Homo sapiens: one gene and its partner. The protein of the gene in region 1 purifies or fractionates together with the protein of each later gene. This does not show direct contact. Each region holds a gene or a part of one and is shown in the gene's direction. Other genes may lie near its edges.

Evidence for each region.
Region 2: the proteins of DLX4 (region 1) and GPC6 purify together in Homo sapiens (affinity purification with mass spectrometry; 2 studies listed by BioGRID and IntAct, with this or other methods). This does not show direct contact.

What each region holds. Positions count from the first base shown.
Region 1 is NC_000017.11:49,964,632-49,972,189, forward strand, and holds the start of DLX4 (homeobox protein DLX-4), read left to right. Parts: upstream 1-4,558; 5' UTR 4,559-4,837; coding exon 4,838-5,120; exon of another isoform or gene 5,121-7,558. UniProt on the Homo sapiens protein: May play a role in determining the production of hemoglobin S. May act as a repressor. During embryonic development, plays a role in palatogenesis.
Region 2 is NC_000013.11:94,405,539-94,408,774, forward strand, and holds the end of GPC6 (glypican-6 precursor), read left to right. Parts: 3' UTR 1-2,482; downstream 2,483-3,236. UniProt on the Homo sapiens protein: Cell surface proteoglycan that bears heparan sulfate. Putative cell surface coreceptor for growth factors, extracellular matrix proteins, proteases and anti-proteases. Enhances migration and invasion of cancer cells through WNT5A signaling.

The sequences.
Region 1 (7,558 bases):
CCCGGGAGCTTCTCCAGGGTTATTTGGGAAATGAGGGGGAACTCCAATCCCTGAGAAAGCGCTCAGGGGCTTGCTGAGGTGAGCGCAAATGGAAGCACAAGGCCGGGCTGGCCGTGGGCTCAGTAACCAGTCGGCTGCCCGGCTTGCGCCAGCACTAAATGCTCGATCAGAAAGAGAAAAAGAGGCGCAATAATTCCAAATTTCAGGAAAAGTCAAATCGGAGAGGGGGGACGCAGGTCTCTTCAGACTGCCCATTCTCCGGGCCTCGCTGAATGCGGGGGCTCTATCCACAGCGCGCGGGGCCGAGCTCAGGCAGGCTGGGGCGAAGATCTGATTCTTTCCTTCCCGCCGCCAAACCGAATTAATCAGTTTCTTCAACCTGAGTTACTAAGAAAGAAAGGTCCTTCCAAATAAAACTGAAAATCACTGCGAATGACAATACTATACTACAAGTTCGTTTTGGGGCCGGTGGGTGGGATGGAGGAGAAAGGGCACGGATAATCCCGGAGGGCCGCGGAGTGAGGAGGACTATGGTCGCGGTGGAATCTCTGTTCCGCTGGCACATCCGCGCAGGTGCGGCTCTGAGTGCTGGCTCGGGGTTACAGACCTCGGCATCCGGCTGCAGGGGCAGACAGAGACCTCCTCTGCTAGGGCGTGCGGTAGGCATCGTATGGAGCCCAGAGACTGCCGAGAGCACTGCGCACTCACCAAGTGTTAGGGGTGCCCGTGATAGACCGCCAGGGAAGGGGCTGGTTCGGAGGGAATTCCCGCTACCGGGAAGGTCGGAACTCGGGGTGATCAAACAAGGAATGCATCTCACCTCCGTGGGTGCTTGTGCTGCGCAAGGAATTATTACCGGAGCGGTTGCGATGGCCTTTGCCCGGCGACCCAAGAAGAGTAAGCAAACTACCGTCCACCCAGCGGATCAGGTCCAATCCCTGCGCCTCGGCCCAATCCCTAGAGCCCCGCGGCGCCGTATCCCCTCCCCCCCAACTCTGGACCCCGCCGTCTGTCCCCGCGGCATCACCAGGGTGCTGGAGTTTTCCGAGCAGGCCCCTTGCGCTAAGCGAGAGGATCTGTGAGGGAAAGTTGGGAGAGCCACTTCTGGCTTTTGTGAAGATCCCGGGCCTGAGGTATTGGTAGTGACAGGAGAGAGTTCTCTTTTTTTCTTCCTTCTTTCCATCCCTCCTCCTCCCCCCACTTCTTCTTTTTGGTTTTCTCATGGTTTTGGATTTTAGTTTTTGCAATTTGTCATAAAGCAAATGACAAAGGCTTGGAGTTCTTAGTCCAGCTCAGTTCTTTTATCCCTTCTGGGTAAACCAGTCTCAGAGAAGGCAAATGACTGATGCAAAATATCCCAACCAGCAACTTCGTGGCTGAACTGGACCAGAACCCAAGCCTCAAGAGTCTCAAGCCAGCTCTCCCTCTTTAAAAATTTTTTTGTAAAATATGGAATGCTTCATAAATTTGCATGTCATCCTGGTGCAAGGGCCATGCTAATCGTCTCTGTATTGGTTCAACTTTTTTTCCTAAGCAAGCATCCTCTCTCCCCTCTGATCCAATACGAGATTACTGTGCTTCCCAGCCCACATCCTCACCACGTCCACCTTTCCTGAGGTTGGTGAGATGAGACTCCTATTGGAGAGGATCCCTCCCTGGGGAGCCTGCTTCTGAGGAGACCCCAGGTTATCCCAAGCTGGTGCCCCAGCCCCACACCCTCTGGAATATGGGAGAAGGGAGCCTTGAAGAAACAGGTGATGATGGAAGGAGATGTTTCCTCATTTGTAAAATGGGGATAATAGTGCCTGGAGTTTGAGCGTGTGTGTGTGTGTGTGTGTGTGTGTGTGTGTGTGTGTGTATGCACGCACAGGACTTGGATGTTGTGAGTGCTTGATAAATTCCAAAGGGCTGCAGAGTATGTCCTGCTGCTGCATAGGGGTGAAGATCCTCTGAGTCCAGAGAAGCCCTGAGAGCTTAGAACTTAAGACAAGTATGCACTGGGGATCTCTTGGCTTTGGAGGATGCCCAAAGCCAACTGTGGCAGAACCCTGCCAGAAAACCCATGCCTGCCCTTCTTTCCTGGGTCTGACAAGAAAGGATTCTGTGCACATGGTTCTAAGAGGGAATGTCTTTCCACTTATCCTGTCAACTCCAGCTCAAAAGCACTTCCTTTGGGAAACCCTCCCTCACAGCCAACCCCACCCAAAAAACATTCTCTTCCTTTGATGCACAACTTTGATGCCATCCCTGGAAACTCTCCTCAGCACTGCTGTAAGGCTGCCTCCATCCCTGTAGAGGAAAATGGTGATGGTAGAATGAAAGGTTTAGAAGGATATATATCCTCACAGGTTCACAGCTCCAGCTCTAAGGAGATGGTGGCATGGCGAGAATTAAGGAAGAAAGGGAGAAAGGTAGTCCCACATAGAATAAGCATTTCTCTACTGAGCAAACCCTCCACAGCCTGTTGGACGAGAGGGGAGTGGGTTCTCCAGCTGCCCTGCAAAAGCCCCTTCTTCCCGGCTCCAAGGCTTCAAGATGAAGAGCTCCAAGCCAGGTGCTAGAGTCTCTCCTTGGAAAAACTCACCTCTATCTATTCCACTGGGGAGTCTAGTTTGAAATAGACTTGCTCTTCCTCCTTGCAGGACACCTGACTGAACTTCAACCACCCCTGCACACCCATTTGATTGATTTTGTCTAAGGAGGCTTGGGCTCCATTCCCCAGCCAGTGTTTTCTCCTATTCTTCCAGGCTGCTGCCTCCTCCTCCTCCTCCTCCTCATCCTCCTCCTTCTTTTTTCGACATAGAGTCTCACTCGGTCAGTCAGGCTGGAGTGAAGTGGCATGATCTCAACTCACTGCTGCCTTAACATCCAGGGCTCAAGTGATCCTCCTGCCTCAGTCTCCTGAGTAGCTGGGACTACGGGCATACACCACCATGACCAGCTAATTTTTGTACTTTTTGTAGAGATGAGTCTCCCTATGTTGCCCAGGCTGATCTCAAACTCCTGAGCTCAACCGATCTGCCTGCCTGGGCCAAATGCTGGGATTACCGGCCTGAGCCACCTTGCCTGATCTCTCTTTCTTATCACCATCCTCTTCCATCTCCCAGTTCTACGAGGGCTACCTTCACTCTGAACGCTAACAATGAGAGCATGTGTGTGTGTACAAACATGAATATGCCTGCCCAGTTGCATAAAGTGGGAACAGGTGTTTGGGTATGCTGGGGAATTTGTGAAGACTGGCAGTTTAGGGACACATCTAACATAAGGCATCTTAGATGTGTGTGGACAGGTATTTCTCATAGAGCAGGAACACAAGTATACATTTTATATGCTTGGATCTTCTGTATTTTCTAGTAGGTACACCAGTGATTTGACTTGTATACTCATGAATCCATGTAAGAGACAAGTACTAGATAGTGTTTTTATTTAGGGATAGTGCTAATTCATCTTTAGGTATGTAGATGTATACACATCACAGCCTAAAGTGTTTGCAGATTTACAAATGAACCTCTCTTTTTATAGAGGAATGCTAGTGTGAACATCAGTGTAGGTACCTCCATGTTGGTATATGTGAGTATACATGTTGTATTTGAATGGAGTCCCTGTGTAGTTGTGTACACGTGTCAATAAATGCTTGTATACGTGGACACGTGTCCATCGAGGCCATGGATACTAATGTTTAGAAGCAAGTCCTGAACACAGCCTGGAAAATGCGCCAGGGAGACTGGCCTGCAGTATTTCCTGTGCCCGCCCAGGAGCCATCCAACTGGACTCATCTCCCACTCCCAGATTTCGTCCGGGTTCAAGCAACACTTCAGCCCCCTGCGGCGCCAGGTAAGGCGGGGCACCGCACAGGCTAAAGCCCAGAGGGCGGATCCCTTCTTCAGCCTCGGGGGCCTGCAAGGAGCTGCGGTGTCGCAACCAAACCAGGGCCCCTGCCGGAAGCGGAAGCCAGCACGCAGGGCGGTGGGGTGCAGCGGCGGCGGTCTCGGCGTGCCAGGCCCAGGGCGCCCCGCGGGGGCGTGCGCGCCACACGCGTGCGGGGCAGGCTGGGCGCCGGGCGGCACCCTCCCAGCCCCGGCGTCTATTTACCAACAAACTGCCGGCGCTCAGCAGCGGCGCATTCCGACGCGCTGACTAAGCGGTTGGCGCTGGCGGTCTGCACTTGACTCCCCTTCAGGTCCACCGCGGCTGGACCAGAATCGACGTGCAGATCCCCGAAATCGGGAGACTGCAAATGCAGATTCCCTGCGTCTCCGCAGCCCCCGGGCCTCTGCCCACCACCCAGCTCCCTGTCTCTTGGGCATCCAGTCTCGCCACCTCTCTAGCATTTCTGCCATTATAACCGAGGTTCCTGGACTGCACCAATCGCTCTGCAACCCCAGCACCTCTCGGAGGAGACCCCGAGGTAGACCGGCCTGGAGCATGCGCACCGCCCCTCTCCCATTTACCACTTCTCTACAGCGGGCTGTCCCGGGGGGCGGGGCCCGGCTGCAAGTCTCCGTGAGGTCACCGCGGGCGGTAGCCAATCCGGGACGTCTAAGAGGGCGGGGCCCCCGTCGGGTCCCGGGAACCGAACCCGATGGAGAGGAGGGGGCCCCCATGGATTTAGGGGGGGAGGGGAAAGTCATGGGGGGCACCCCCCCGGAACCCCTTTCCCAGGCGCGCGTTCTCCGCTGAAAGAGGCTCAGAGAGACACTTTCTCCGGGATCTTAAGTGTGGGGGCTGCTGGCTGGGGGGCCCGTCCGGCCCAACGCCGGAGGCTTGGAAAAGAGAGTTGGCAGCGGGAGCGGACTACGTGCCGGGCCATGGCCCTTCTGCCCGGGCCCTGGCCACAATGACCTCTTTGCCCTGCCCCCTCCCCGGCCGGGACGCCTCCAAAGCTGTCTTCCCAGACCTCGCCCCTGTCCCGTCGGTAGCGGCTGCCTACCCGCTTGGCTTGTCCCCTACAACCGCAGCCTCCCCCAATTTGTCCTACTCCAGGCCGTATGGCCACCTCCTGTCTTACCCCTACACCGAGCCAGCGAACCCCGGAGACTCCTACCTGTCCTGCCAGCAACCCGCGGCGCTCTCTCAGCCCCTCTGCGGACCTGCAGAGCACCCTCAGGAACTCGAGGCAGGTAAGTTCGGCCGTGGAGGCTCTTCCCACCTCTGGGGTTCGGCTCCTGTGCGCCCCTAAACTTCTCCCTCGCCTGGTTGGACGCAGCTAGCGGGATTCAAACCTTCCTTGGATTCCCTGGGATGTGGGGGTGGGGGGAGGGCGAAGGGATGGGGCGGGAGACACGGGGGGAGGGGCGGGGGAGAGTTGATCTAGGTCTCCTTTCAAAACCGACCTGGTTTCGATTTGCAGTTGTGTAAAGACAGGCGAGAGGGCCCCCCCAACCCCCCACCTGGAGCAGCGGGGCTGTCTGTACCTACTAGTAACGGAAAACTGAAGCAATCCAGATGTGGGGATGGGGGCCTAGCCCCTTTGTCAGAATCCCCCAGCCCCCGTCCTGTACTCCCTTCCTGCCCCATTGTCGCCCCTCTCTGCGTTAGTCTTGTCTCAGAAAGCAGTGATCAAGCCAAACACTGAAAAACAGATCAAGTCCTGGTAGGAGGGCTGTAGACATCGAGGCTTATTCTGGGCTCTGTCCTCTCCCTTCCCTGGCCTTACCCGCTCTCCTCAGACCAGGCCTGACCTTGACTGGAAGCTGGCCTGGCAGAATCTGGGAGTAGGACCCTTCTATCCATTGTTCTGAGAAGGTAGCCAAAGGCTGGTAGGAAAGTCGCTCATCTCTCCCTGACTACCTCAGCCTTCCAGCCAAAGGAGCCGGCCATCGCTGTCATCTCCACTCTTTGGCTTTGGGGTAGGTTAGGCCACAGTTCCCGTTGCCTGGAGCAACTCTGAGCTCCTGAGAAAGTGCTCACTGGAAGGCCTCAATGAAGCGGAGAACCTGGCCCGTCTTTGGGATCCTGGGCCTTGCAGCTGAGCTGACATACAATGTGGGTATGGCATTGCCCACAATCCCATCTGCACTGGCTCCAGCTTAGCCTCCAGGTCTCTGGACTCTCTGCCTCCATCTAATTGCTCACCCCCTCCTCCTGCAATTGTCTTTGGCAGTCTCTTCCAAGGAGGCACACCCATTAGGTGACTTCACTGGAGTCAGCTCAGGACCAAGACATCTTCCTCCCTTCTCCTGTGGCTCTGACATGCTCACAAACCATCAGAGCCAGAAGTGACCCTAGGATTTAGAAGCTCAACTTCTTTGATGTATAGATGGGTAAAGCATGTGGCCAGGAGCATCGATTTTAGGGAGCTTCCTCCAACCCCCCCAAAATTAACTGCCTTCTGTGACAGAACTGTGGCTGTCTCCTGGGCTGCGGAGTGTGGCTGGAGTGGGCGCAGTTGCAGGGAGGAGTAGTTCTAGTTTTTCAAATGAATCCCTTTGACTGTCCTTTAGTGTATGCTAATAGGATATGTTTGTGTGTGTTATGTGTTTGGGGACTGGGGTGGGAATATCATGACCTTGTCCTCAGGGGAATTGCTGGCAGTAGGGTTGGTGTTGTCAGTCTTGTCTGAGATCTAAGGACAACAGAGTGGAGAGTTCATTTTCTTTAAGGACTTTCCCCCATCCAGCGAAAAACCACACACACCCAGATTTCCTTAGAATACATTTCTAGCATTTCTCTGCTGGAACTGGTGGGTTTGGGCGCTCTAGAGTGGAGGGCATGTGATCGAGAGCTTGGGGTCCTCCTTTTACTTCCACTCTATGTCCACTCCTGCCTTGGGAAAAGGTTTGGCTCCAAGTGAGCGGTGCCACCACCCCGTTGAGCCGTAGGGAGCAGCGGGCCTGGAGGGAGGCCTTGGGGCTCCATGATCGCGACCCGGGCAGATCTCGTAACTTGCTGGAACTGGGGTAGGGAAAGGCAGCTGTCCGGGAAGGAACTTGGAGGGGGTCTGCTGGGAGAGTTGGGGCGCGGAGGGCTATGCGAATTCAGCAACCGGGTCGGCCTCAGAGACTCTGCGTCCCCGCTCGAATTGCGCAGTCCACGCAGCCAGAGAGGCGCGGGTGGGCTCTGGGCTGCCAGCCCAGAGCTGCCAGCAGTGGGGTCGAGGCAGGGGAGGCAGGACAGGCGCGGGCGGGAGCGGAAACCCAACGGTTTTTCTGGGAATTGGTTGAGGCAGGGTCGAGGAGGGAGGATCTCAGAAGCCCGCAGCGCCCGAGGCCACGGGTGAGGGATGCGGGGGAGGTGACGGCAGCTGGTGACCGCGGCTGGCCGAGGGCGGGTACACTGACGTGTGGAGGGTGAGCCCGACTAGGGGAAGAAGGTGGGGGGACGCGGGCGGACAGAAGCCGCTCTCTCTCGGCTCAGGTCGGCTGGACAGACCCGCAGGGAATGCGGCGAACGCTGCCCTAAGCGCCCGGGCATTGCGGCTGCTCCATCCGCCCTACTCCTCCCATTGCCTGGGACCTCTGCAGCGTCCCCGTAGAGCCGCGCAGGTTAGGGTGGCTGGCTTGGAAGAACAGAAACCCCTCGGCCCAACCCTCCCCTGTCCCTCAGCATTCTAGGGCTG
Region 2 (3,236 bases), on another chromosome or scaffold:
AACTAGATCAGGATGCCTTGTTTTTCCTGTGCTTTCACCCCCAAAAGGTTTTGTGCATGTGTATGAATACACATAATATTAGTGAATGTGAACCCATGTTCTATACGCACTAAACACACAGTTAATATATAAACGCCTGCTTCATTTGTTTCAACACCTTCATTATCAATATGATTCATATTGATGAGATATAGTGATGCATAATGAGCCAGGCAGAGAGCTGAAATGATATCAGTTAATGATGTCACAGTGTTAGCACCCTGCATGGATGTGGTCAAAATATCATTCAAGTTGTACTTCCTAGTTTTTATCATCATACTACTATGTCATATGATTTTCAGACTAATTTAACATGAGAAATGTTTTGGCCCTAAAGGATTTCACTTAACCTAGTTACCCTATTTCAGTAAGTATTTTGGAATTCAACCCTCGAATTATTTTTTCTCATTTCAGCATAGTGATAGGGGATGCAATGAGGCTTCATTATTTTTTATGACCTGCCCCTCATTTGCTCTGATGTTCCCTAAATTCTGTAATCATATCATAACTTTTGTTATGAATAGAGAGGAATGGGCTCACTGAAACCTGACACTAGAAATTGGTGGGTGATGCTCATAACTGCAAACACTTAGCTTATTGAAGTGCCTCTATTTACATGTTCTTTAGTTATAATATGTATTTTTCTAACAGAAATACACGTCTGTAATTGGTATATATTATACTTTGTATGTGTCACAACAAAAGCTAAACAGAGGCTAAAGTCTTTAGCAGAGAAGAATGAATTACAAATTTACCAATAAGAGCTCTGTTTATGGTTCTGTATTGAAGGACAACCATGACAACCTTCTGTCATTTTCACGAAGGCCAAGTTGGTACTTTGATTATAGCCATCGTAGAACATTAGCACTAGAAATCTGTCTCCCTTACAATGACTTACCTAGCTAGCATCAAGTAACTTGTATCACCTGCTTTAAATGTAAGGGATAGAAAATACTATTTTGTCTACACTGAAAAACATTATTATTCATTGATAAGTAGTAATAATTATAAAAGTAACATTCTTTAAAGCAAACACATTGAAAATATTATTACAGGCAGAACCCTGATTTTTAATTTATATTCCCTGCTGCAGACATTAGCCTTCTTTAATTCTTTTGCCATTACATACATGTTTCGGCTACAGACTGAACACGAACTAAAGTCCCTAAGGAGGAAAAAACCTTAACATATTCCTGAGATGTGATTCTTTTATTACTTCTTTTTGCAAAGCTAATTATCAAATGATTTGATTAAACCTAGACGCATTAGGAAATGCAAGTTTTACCTAAAACTTGCAGAAATTTAAACACATTTCCATTTACTTACTAACGAACAGACCTGATTTTTATTTAAAAACACAATTTAGCTTTGCCAACAGAAGAGTAAAGGAAACCATAACTTATAAATTTGTAATGTGTTCCTCCTTGTTGGAGACATTAGCCAGTGTTTAGTTTTAGACCAACTTATACAAAGAGAGTATTGATTTGTACACATTCTGGAGACTTGCTATATCATGGTTTGCTATGGCACAGACTCAGCTTAGCATGGGGACATTTTGAACTTCATTCAAAGTTGAGTAGTTACTGGAACCTTTGACATTGCCTTGTAATGAGGTACTTCCAAAAAAAGACCCCTAACAATGGCATAATAGTGAGGTCTCTCTGTGCATATACATAATATATATGCAGGATAAATGTGTGCACCAATCAAATCTAAAATTTTATGTGACTGTCAAATGAATATTATTTGGGTTAAGATTTTTCATTTCTGATTTGGATAGAAAATTGCTATTAATCTTGTATTAAAATAGTTTTTAAAAATCTACCAGTGCCCTTTCTGCATTTTCTTAATTATTGTCATAGTCTAAATTTCAGAGCCATGGAATTTTTTGTGTTTGAGACATTTTTAGAAGCTTCAATATTAAAAAACAACAACAAACCTCGTATATTAAAACAGTGCCACTCTCCTAAGTACACTCAGCATCTGAAATCAGGAACTATTTGAACTTTAGAACATTTAGAGCTTCCCAAATGTGTATGGAAAATACTGTAGCGCTGTTCTTTTGTACTGATTTCTTCTCAGAGGATAAATTTAGTGACTTGAAAACTGATGTCAATACTTTATAAATGAGGTCAGAAAATAAGATCAAATGTGAAAAGACTAATAATTTCCCAATTTAGCCAATTGCATTGATTTTTATACTTCTGAAATGTTTCCATCCTCTCAGGCATGCTAAATATTGTATAACCTGCTAAAGATTTATTTCACAAATGCTTATTGAACTCTTATTCTCTATAAACCCTGCTCTAGGGGATTTATCACTGGCTGTGAAAAACCACCAGTTGAAAATTATTCATTCCTTAATGCAGCTAATCATAATTATTACAGATAAATAATGTATTTCAAGAATGATCTTATAAATAAAGGAACCCATACAAACAAAGGTACCAAGAATACAGCATTTAACTGTAAGAAATACTGTGATTTAGCTCACATTATTACTATTTTGGTTTTTATTGAGAAAAGTGACTATTACAAAACAATTAAGGAATGTTAGAATAATTCCATCTATAAGATCAAAATATAACAAATTTTATTTGGAAGCAACAGAAACCAATTTATTGGGCAGGAAAAACATCCAAGTGTTTTTCATCCAAATGAAACCAGACACTTTTATCAGGTAACAACAATATTTATTTTAATTTGCTCTTTGGATAAGTGGACAGGGATATAGTTAAAGTATATGCACAAATGTGGTAACAGAATTACATTGATTTAAAAAATCCAACTTGTAAAACAGTGGCAATGAGGGATAAAGTGTTTTTGTATCTTGAGAGCTAGAAACATGCAGGCACAAATTTAAGTCTGTTTAAATAGACGTTGACAACTGACTTAGTGCAGACACATTTCCATTCCATAGACATATTTCTTTGCTGGTGTAAACATGTGGCCAAACATATTTTGCTGGCTCATAAATAGGGCATGCAACAAAGCCAGGAGGAATTAGATGCCTGCCTTTATAGCCTGCTTAAGGAGCGCAAGCTCATGTATACCTTGAAGCATAAAGCAAAACGAGAAATTGGGAAAATGGGACTTTTACCCTGTGAATGCTCAAGTTTGGAGAGAAGGTGAAAGAAGGATTACAAACTGGATTCAAGAGAGCAGAAGAATATTTACCTTGACTAAAGCCACCTTCC